Linked DNA regions of Homo sapiens: region 1 is linked to region 2. A link means that fine-mapping ties the variant in region 2 to the expression of a gene that starts in the linked region. Tissue or cell type: lymphoblastoid cells. Region 2 holds a variant in brackets; the other region holds the start of a gene. All regions are shown on one strand. Distances are between the middles of the regions. Region 1 holds the start of RASGEF1B (RasGEF domain family member 1B). Region 2 has its middle 51 kb from the start of RASGEF1B.

Region 1 (5,499 bases), 51 kb after region 2:
AGGGGCACCTGCCAGATGCCAGCCAGAGCTCTCCTGTAGGAGGTGTCTGTCAGCCCCTACTGGGAGGTGTCCCCCAGTCAGGATACACGAGGGTCAGGGACCCTCTTGAGGAGGCAGTCTGACCCTTAGCAGAGCTTGAACGCTGTGCTGGGAGATCTGCTGTTCTCTTCAGAGCTGTCAGGCAGACGTTTAAGACTACTGAAGCTGCGCCCACAACCGCCCCTTTCCCCAGGTGCTCTGTTCCAGGGAGGCGGGCGTTTTATCTATAAGTCCCTGACTGGGGCTGCTGCCTTTTTTCAGAGATGCCCTGCCCAGAGAAGGGAAATTTGGCAGTCTGGCCACAGCAGGCTTGCTGAGCTGCAGTAGGCTCTGCCCGGTTCCAACTTCCCAGAGGCTTTGTTTACACTGTGAGTGTAAAACTGCCTACTCAAGCCTCAACAATGGTGGATGCCCCTCCTCCCACCAAGCTCGAGTGTCCTGGGTTGATCTCAGACTGCTGCTGTGCTGGCAGTGAGAATTTCAAGCCAGTGGATCTTAGTTTGCTGGGCTCCATTGGGGTGGGACCGGCTGAGCCAGACCACTTGGCTCCCTGGCTTCAGCAACCCTTTCTAGGAGAGTGAACGGTTCTGTCTCGCTGGTGTTCCAGGCGCCACTGGGGTATGGAAAAAAAAAGAACTCCTGTAGCTAGTTCGGTGTCTGCCCAAATGGCCACCCAGTTTTGTGCTTGAAACCCAGGGCCCTGGTGGGGTAGGCACTGGAAGGAATCTCCTGGTTTGTGGGTTGCGAAAACTGGCACAAGCACAGTATCTGTGCTGGAGTTCCTCAGGCTCAGTCCCTCATGGTTTCCCTTGGGTAGAGGAGAAAATTCCCCAACCCCTTGCACTTCTCGGGTGAGGCGATGCCCCACCGTGCTTCAGCTCACTCCCCGTGGGCTGCACCCACTGTCCAACCAGTCCCAGTGAGATGAACTGGGTACCTCAGTTGGAAATGCAGAAGTCACATGCTTTCTGTGTGAATCTCGCTACGAGCTGCAGACTGGAGCTGTTCCTATTCAGCCATCTTGCCAGCAATCCCCTGCAACTCTTAATTTCTGGCTACAGGATCAGTAATGTCAAGGGTGTAAGTGACTGGCCCAATGTCATATGGCTCGTTTGTTACAGAATCGGGATGCAAAAACTGAGCTTGAAAAATCAACCAACCAGTACAACCACAACAGCAGGGCAGGGCCACCCAGCCTCTGTGTTTCACTCTGCATGGCTGGCCCACCAAGTTCCCTTGGCCTTATGGCTTCTCATTTAAACTGCAGAGAAGCTATGGTTAAGTCAAAGGCTCAAGTAGGTTAGAGTGAATTACTGAATCAGAGGAGTCCTATTTACACAAAGGAGGGAAGGAGTATCATAAAGAGGAAGAAAAGTAAAAGGAGGCATAAATGAAGAAAATGAAAGAGGAATCCGCTAAGAATAGACAAAGTGAGCGTCAAAATGACTCCACCCCAGGAAGGAGAGGGGGAGGGACCCATGGAGCAGGAGGGAAAAGGATTCCTCCCCCTCAGTAATCTTAATTATAACAGTATAGGACAGGTATGAATAGTGTTGTTTTATATATGAGAAAACTGAAGCTCAGAAAAGCTGTATCACTTACTCAAGGAAATACAGTTGGTAAGAGTCTCCTAATTCTGTAAATTTTTTCTTTTCATAGGTCTCTTTCTTCCCTTGTTTCCATCATTATTTCCCTCTGGCCTCCTTTTATGTGTACAAAGTGAAGTACGGAGGTTTTTACCTTTTTTCTGAAATAGTTATCAAATATCCCATGATGGAGTGAGTACGTGGTTACCATGACAACACAGCCCTCACTGAGGACTAGCCTCCCTGCTTTGCCTCCGGAATCATGTTTCACGGAACAGGTTCCTCTCCGTGCAACTTCTAGCAGCTGTAATTCTACATTTTGTTTGGGTGATTATTTGCTGAATGTCTGTCCTCCACTAGACTATGTAAGTTTCACAATGGCAGAGACCAGCCTACTTTGCCAAGTGTGCCCCCAGCGTTTTGCACAGTGCTTAGCACCAGGATCTATGTGTTATTTGCTAAGCAAATGTTCTGTGGTTCCTCTCCGCTCTCTTCTGAAAGTTACATGGACAGTAACCTTTAGCTCACAATTATGTTAATAAATACTGTGTAACGAGTCGGGCCGGTATTTACAGATAGTATACACGTGAATGAACACACACACACTCACGACTGCACAACAGCCCGGGGCAGGTGCACTCAAGAGGAAACGCGCACAGTCGGAGCCAGCCTGACCAACGCTGTTAAACACCGCTGCGCTGGGCTCCGCGGGCCTCTGCCGCGTGGGAGGGCACCCAGGCTGACGCGCTGCGGGAGTCTGGGGCCCACTGGGACTTGCCTGCCGGGCCGGGTGGCGGCGGCGTGGGCGGTGAGCTGCGCGGTGATTGGCCCGCGCCTGCCGGGGCGGGGCGGGGCTGGCAGCGGGAGGCAGGCGCCTGAGCCAAGGGGGGCGTGCGCGGCGGCGGCTGCCGTAGTTTCAGTATAAACAAGGAACCCGACTGGTTAGACAGATTTTGTTTTTCTTCTTCCCGCGCGCTTTAGCTCCCTGTCCTTTGGTCGCATTTGTGGGCGCGCGGCACGCAGCCGGGAGGCCGAGGACTCGGAGTTCACCTGCAGGTAGGTTGTTCCCTGGCTGGGTTGTTCTCCCGGCTGGGGGACCACAGCCCGGAGCGGGAACTCCGGACCCTACTGCGCGCTGCGCTCTCCCTGGAGATCCCTGGGCCGCGCGGGGAGCGAGCGGGGCTCAGAGACTTCACCGGCTGCCGGGTGCGCTCCGAGGCGGCGGGAGATCCCGAGGCGAGTGAGCGCGAACGCGGGCGCCAAGAGCCGAGTTACAGCCCGGGACCGGGGGAGGGCCCCTGCCCGGCCGCTGCGGGTACCTGGGACTGCCGCGGCCCCAACAGGTGCGAGGCCGAGCCGCTGGGACCCGGGCAGGGCCAGGCTTGGGTTGGGTTGGGTTGTGCCTTCCCTCTTTCTCCCTGATCCTGCAGCCAGGCCTTCTGTCTCGAGATAGGTGGTTTTTGAGGATTTGTCTTGAGTTGTAATCGCGTCCATCATTTTTTTCATCCCTTCTTTCCTTCGTGTGCATACCTAGGTTGATTCTTCCACTTCTTGACCAGTTTTGTGTGCGTGTGTGTGTAGGGGGAGCTGTTTATTTTTGTTGTCAGTGCCATGTAATCTAAAGTCTGACTCGTAGGAAGGGACAAGGGAACAGAAGTCACATACTCGCCACCGACAAGGTGATGTGCTGTCATCCTTCGGTGTTCACCTGGCAAACTTGGGAGACACTGAGTCGCCTTGCTTTTGCCAGAGCTCAGTTGAGTCGCCTCGGGTCACCTGCCTGGGGAATCTCAGATGAGCTAGAGGTATCTAGGAGCCTCGCGGGCAGTCAGCTTAAGGGAGGTTCTTTCTAAGGGAGCTGTGAAAACAACTTAAGTGCTGCACCAGGGAAAAGGGCGAGACGGGGGCTGGGGTGCGCGCGCCTTTGTGTGTGTGTATGGACGTACCATTTCAATACTGCTTGCTGTCTTGCCCCAACCAAATCGGCGCAGTTCAGGCAAAAGCAACGTAGCTTAATCCTCTGACACTGCCGAGGGTGGCACAAGTGTGGCAGATAACACAAGGAGATTGTCTAGACGGCGATTTTCTCTTCGGAATGTAGATGTGTCCATCCTCCCTGATGAATTCGGTGGATATGGTGTATATAGATGAATATGCACACAAATTTGTGTATGTGTTTGGGCCGAACGCGTCTCCAAGGAGTCCTTCGTCAGCACCATGTGACGACGGTCAGGAACTGCTGGTGTGTGTAGATCTATATTTAGCTCAGATGGTCTAATGGCCGAAGGGAGGGTCTCTGAACTGGGTGCATAAAGGGGAAGAGTCTAGGGATCAGGGTGGTGCACTCTTGAATGATGTCTGGCACAGTCACACTCAGATGGGGTGAATAATTGCCCTTTCCTCGTGAAAACAGTAGCTAGAGCTTGGCATGTGATGGCTATGCCTTAATTTAAAACATAGTTGGACCATGGCGATAAGCCTCTGCTAAGAAACAAGGAGGTTTACAGTTAAGCAGCGTATATACCTGGTTGGCCGTTTGGGTGAAAATAACTGGTCCCATGAGATTTAGAACAAATATAGAGTTGCTTTCTTTAATAAAAAGAAATAAAAATTATTTGCTGTTGAGGTTTTCATAACAGAAAAAAAGAAGGCAGCTTGTTAAACCCTATCATTAAAGGTAATTTTATTTTTTTAAGTGAGGGGCAGTGGTGGAGCTAGAGAGGAGGACCTTAGGGCACTTTTGACAGATATCAGGGTTTACAAACAGCGTTATATTATGCCTCTCAAGCAGATTTTCTGGTGAAGATGAGATCAGCCACTGATTAACAAGTTTCTTGTTGGCATTCTTCCACTGCATGTCGGGTCAATCCTTTGTTTTCTTGGAGGTGGGCAACATTTCTAACTACTAAGCATATTGGCCTTGTACTTTCCAGTTGTCTAACGAAGTGTTACATTCTTAGAATTTATTTCTCCTATGGTGCATTTTCAGTCTTGCTTCATTTTATGTGCTCCACTGGATATTTTATCTGATACTAACACATCTAATACCTGGGAATCATACTGTCTTTTGGAGAAGAGAATCACCAGAAAGCATTCCCATGTATTGTCTCCCGCTAACCCCCTACAGCTTAGCATCTAATAGATTATTTATATGTGTGTGTGTGTGTGTGTATATATACACATATATGTACATATATACATATGTATTTATATGTATAACTAAATCAAAGTATTATAATAACACATAGTTCTTATATAACATTTTATTCTTAGAACCTAAAATTAACTACTAGTTAATAGAGTACAATAGACTATATAAAAACAATTCAATACACCTTTCTAAGGAAAAAGACATGGTAAGAAAATTGAAGGGGAGGAGCTGGGATCCCTAGTATGACTCAGGAGTGTTGGGATCAGCTTTGTCAATATCCGCAGAGTACCTGGAAGAATTGGACTTGGGAGGAACATTGGGATAGCCCCAGGAGAGCACCTCCTTGGAAAGGAGATGGGTGAATGGAATGTCTTTTTCTTTGCTTGGGAGAAGAATCTAGAATCCTTGAAGCAGGGATTGGGAAACTTGATTCTGATGCCACACATAATAAATGAAAAAGCTGTGAAAACATTTTGTGACTTCTTAAAGAGGCCAATTGCACTGTTAAAAATGCTGTTTAAGATTTATGGGATTTTTATTAGTAGTAGTTGAATTCAGGTATTGCCAGCCCACCCCCCTCACTTTTTCAGACCTATAGTTGTCCTTTTTGATTCTCCAGTTAAAACTACAAAAAAGATCCATGCAACCTTTGCTTATCCTAAAGTGACAGATGTTATAGCCTAGTGCTGTGGCATATTTCTGCCTTGGAAATAAGGAGACTTG
Region 2 (5,213 bases):
AGATTTGTCATGTAATCTAGCAAAGGGAACTCCTTATGAATTTGTACTTTGGCCATTCTCTGTTATTTTTATCATTGATATGCAACATGATTAGTCAAGGCTCTGCAAAACTGAAAGAACCTTCTGAATTATTACACATGAAATTTTCAAAAGCATTTTAGGTCACATTTTATTTATTGAATATTGGTTATCCATGCCCTGTATACATGGTTACTCTCTTGCAACCATAATATTCCAACCAATCAATCCAACAGGAAATGTCTATTAAATAACTAGCATGTGCTCATCCTAGCATTGCTTTATTAACCAGAACACCACACCTCTGAGCATACTAAATGCTGAGAACTTGCTGTCTTAGTGACAACTATGAAATATCTGTTAGTCTGAAATTACTTTTATGCAGATGCCACTAAATGGCTGAAGAAAAGAGGGTGAAGGCTGGTTAACATTCATATCAGTTCTCATACCTTCATGACACTGCCTCTTCTCAGAGGCTTATACCTCCTTTCTGTGCATGATTATTCTTGTCAAAACTCTAATTGTTTTTTCCTCATTTAAGTGAAACATGGTAGAAAATTTTGCCTGAGATATATGTGTCTTTTTTCCTCTCATTTACATTATGTGTTAATAAAAGAGCAATTAGGAAGTACAAGGTTGAAGGGAGAAAAATTAATTCCCAATTATTTCGTATATTTCATCACTAAAGGTAACCACTGTTAATTGTAGCATTTATATTTTTTCATGTGTTTTTTTTTTTAACACACAATCACACACAACAGTGATCTGAAACTGTCAATAGTGGTAACTAGAAAAAGAACAGCTCAAGCTTATAAAAGTGACATCTATAAAAAACATACCAAAAAGAAAAAAAAAGAAAGAAAAAAAACCTAGCCTCTAGGGTAAAGGTTAACAACTGAACTGTCACTTAGTGTTGATGACTTGCTTTCTCCTAAGCTTAGAACTTTCAGGGAATGAGTTTATGATCCCAGGCAGCTTTCTCAGCAGAGGGGAGGGTGCCTAGTTAGACCTAATTACTACATTTTGTTTCACATTCCCACTTAAACAGCTAACCTTTTTGTCCAATAGGTCTGGACTCTGGCAACCATAGCTTGAACTGACTGCACTGTTCTTTCTCTAAATGGCCTTTTGTGTGTGGATAATGACCCCACTCTCTTGAATAGGGTTTCTCTCTACATGCTGTAGCTAAATGGAAAAAACAAAACAAAGAGAAACTGCAGTAAAATGGCCCATAATGGCCTCCTGGGATGGGGGTAGGCTAGACTCTCAGACTTTCACACTTTCCTTCTTCTAAAGTTTCGTAGAGAATAATGCTATACCTCAGAGCAGGGGGACTGCACCTTATGGGATTTTGGCCATGTTCTGGTTTGCGGTTTGAAAGACAAGCTGTCATGAAGTTAAAGGCTGCCTGGGTCTTCTGGGTGGAAATACTGCTCACTTCTTCATCCAGTTGACTGAATCAGAGCCTGCCTCAGAATAACTGCTCAGAAATAGGAATTTCTTCTTGGTCAACCCCAGGCTTTGAAGGGCCTTTGGTCATTCTTGCCCTTGTGCTACAGTTCTGCTGCGATAATCTGAATTTGCCATGTTCGTGGTGCTGGGAAATCAGATGAATGAAAGCTCTTAGAAACCCATCTCCTGACTCTACTTTATGTATCAAGGTTTAGAATTATCAGAGCAGAACCTGGTGTTTGCCCCTGTGGTCCCAGCTCCTTGGGAGGCTGAGGTGGGATGATCACTTGAGTCCAGGAGTTTGAGGCTGTAATGAGCTGTGGTTATTTCACAGTACTCCAGCCTGGATGACAGAGTGAGACCCTATCTCCATCTGTTAAAAAAAAAAAAAAAAAAAAAAAAAAGGTAAAATTATCAGAATGAACTTTTTTGTCCATTCGAGTAACAGGAGTTACAGTGTCAAAGCTTGCAAAACTTTAGGCCAGATTTTGACCCACCTATTTAACATTTCAAAATAATTAAAAGCATATGTACGTATCCCTGTAGTCATCATGGATTCCATTATCTCCATGGAACTTAAAGTAAGGTAATTTTAAGGTCTAAAGAAAATATGTGTTAGTGAAGCCTCCGTACCTAGTCTAATTGACTGACTACCATCTCCTCCACTGTGTCTTTTGGTTCTCCTCCCTTATGTAAGAGCACCTTGTAAATTATTGGACATTATATAAATACTAGTCAGTGTGAGCTAGTCACTCACCCTTTTCTCCTGTACTGAACTCCCTCCATTACACCACATTTACTCAGTACTTACTAATTCCATCCTACCCGTTTCTTCCACCTCATCCCCTGGGTATTTTAGTAGTTTCATTTAATGAAGTAATAACCCATAGTGGGTTAATAAAGGGCAGTTAGGGATGCTAGGGTACAGCCCTTTGAAGATTTTTAAGGTACTTTTCCAAGGTGATTTATTAACTCCTTTTGGGTGCCTGATCTTAGAAAAGGGATATGATAATACACATCTTCTTTACTCAAACTACTAAAGATATAGGTGTGGCATGTGTGTGTGTGTGTGTGTGTGTGTGTGTGTGTGTGT[T/GTGTT]TAGTATTTTTTAAGAACAGCCTCTGCATAAGCAGGAGAGGAAGAACTGGAGTGGAAACATGCACAGAGGAAACTGAGGAGATTGTTTTCTATTATTGACTAACCTTGTAAGGGGAGACAAATATTAGCTATTACCCTATATTAATTGAACATTAACTTAATATGACAATTTTTGTTTCATCACAAGAAATTCTGAATAGGTCTTCAGCATATTACAGTTTTACAAAATGCTATCTGTTTTAAAAATCAAGGAAAAATGAAGTTTGAAGAAAATTCAGAAGAGCAAACTTGTTCTCTACGAAGGTGTAGTCCAGTCATTTGTGTAGACTCCTAGTCTTCCCAGAAGATTTTTTGAGGCGAGTTCAGTTTTGCCCAATAGCTTTGGGCTGCAGCTGCTGAAGGTGAGAGTGGTACCAAAGAAAAATACTGACTGCCTTATAAACCTTGATTTTTACACATGGATGAAGTGCCTTTTGACTCTATTGAACTGATGTGATTTAGTGTTTATGATCCATACGAGAATCTGGAAGGTGATTAAAGTTTCTAACACTATAGATTGATATATTTTAGAGTAACACTCTTCCTCTTAAGTGCTCTTTGTTGGTCTATAGATGTGTTCTCATCAGTTGAACCATTTGCTAGTGGCCTGGATCAGTGCAGATAGGCTTGGAACACTTTCAGAGCAGAAGCTAAGTATCGTGAATGCTAAGAGAAAGAAGGGTCAGAGACTAGTGGCAGGCAGCCACCATTAGATCATTACTGATGAAATAGTCAGTGAAACTCTCTATCACTTTGCCATGGGGAATTCATTCATTAATGTAGTCACAACTCTTTACTGAGCATTTCTTATTTGCTAGACATGGTCTTAGGGTCCAGGGCTACAGAAGATAAATAAACAGGTGATCACTACCCTCAAGAGGTCACATTCCACTGGTAGAGTTGGAATTGTAAGCAGATTCATTACAAATAACAAAATAATAGCTCTCACTTATTTCAAGTGAGTTCCTGCCACTGTTCTAAGTAATTTGCGTGCATTAGCTCATTTAATCTCACAACAACTCTGCAAAGTAAGTATTATTATTATCTCATTTCTACAGATAATTGAACCAGGGCACAAGGAGACTTTTGTACTTGTTCAGGTCACACAGTAAGTGATGGAGCCAGGATTACAACCTGCCCTTCCTTACAACCTGCTCTTCCTTACAACCTCTGACACCATATTCTGAAAGAGGTATAAAAAATGGATCAGGAATTTCTTAATAGAGATTTGCATTGCTTTAAAACCTTTGTTTTATTCCTGTCTATCATATATAACTATTATTAAGAGTTTGGTGAATTTCCTTTCATCTTTCTTTGCAATGGGTTTGCTGCTTTTTTAAAAAAGCATAGTTGTGATTAAATACAGGTTGCATATACAGGTTGAACATCCTAATCTGAAAATTCAAATCCAAAATGCTCCAAAATCCAGAACTTTTTGAGTGCCAACATAATGCTACAAGTGGAAAATTCTATGCCTGATCTCATATGATGAGTCCCAGTGCAAACTACGTCAAAACTGTTTCATACACAAAATTGTTTTAAAATGTTGTGTAAAATTACCTTCAGACTACGTGTATGTGGCGTATATAAGACATCAATAAATTTTGTGTTTATCATAGAATTGGGTCCCATCCTTGAGATATCTCATTATGTATATGCAAATATTCCAAAACCTGAAAAAATTCAAAAATCTGAAATGTTTCTTTTCTGAAACATTTCAGATAAGCGATACTCAACCTGTACAATTTTTAACATGTAATTCCGAAGTTTGTCTATAGGTTTTGAATATTATTAAGCAATGACAGAAGTCCTTGAAAATCATTGTTTAAGGGCTTTCATAACCCAAAAGATGCTATTTTTTAAGTACATTAAAAAAAACTAAGTCCGGAGAGAAGAATTTACTAGATAAAGCATATATTATGATAATAACTTACTTTTAAGAACCATCATGAAGGCTCACTTACATATTGAAATAGCCACAAAGCTCGGGTATCAAAATGATATTTTAACTTGATATCTTCTTGTTACTTAGCCTCTCAAGTTAAATTGGTGTTTCAGAATTGTAAATGCATTTAAAATTGTAGAAATTTTCAACAAATATTCAACAAGAACTCAGTCAGAATAATGTTTCCCATATACCAATTTTATTTAAAAATTAGAAATGGGGGAGGGGCATAAAAATCATGATTAGCCCCAGTTTTTCCATAAAGTGTATTTCTGTTTACATTTTAATAATGATATAAACAGGAATACTCTGCATTCCATGGGTTGCACATCTCACCTATTAAAAAGGCATATGAAACTCTTGTTGGAAAAATAAGGAAGTGAGTGGGGAAAATGTGCTTCAGACTTTCAAACTGTAGCTACTGGCTTTTGTATCAGAAGTCAATTTTTACATTTGAAACCCCAACTGATCTAAGCAAATTTTTCAGCTTGCAAAGTAATGAGTTTAAAAACGAGTCCCTCCTGTTGTTGCTTGATTTTCTTTCTACTTCAGTTGCTCTTTCAAATAACACGCTGAAATGCTAAGGAAGCAATTTTCAGAAATGCACTGGTAGCTAAATCACAGCTGTATGTTGAGACCGCATGTAGGTGGAATTCACCAGCGTTA

Evidence for each region. PIP is the estimated chance that this variant, and not a neighbour inherited with it, causes the effect.
Region 1: it holds the start of RASGEF1B, and the variant in region 2 is the best candidate, but not a certain one, in a credible set for the expression of RASGEF1B in lymphoblastoid cells (TwinsUK, PIP 0.84).

What each region holds. Positions count from the first base shown.
Region 1 is chr4:81,468,952-81,474,450 of GRCh38, reverse strand. It overlaps RASGEF1B (RasGEF domain family member 1B), which reads left to right and starts at 2,544. Exons shown (of 14, transcript NM_152545.3): 1 at 2,544-2,681. RefSeq lists a silencer at 2,203-2,612.
Region 2 is chr4:81,519,993-81,525,205 of GRCh38, reverse strand. No RefSeq gene overlaps it. Among named protein-coding and RNA genes, the nearest start is that of RASGEF1B, 51 kb to the right of the region's middle. The variant T/GTGTT (reference allele first, on the strand shown) is at 2,564.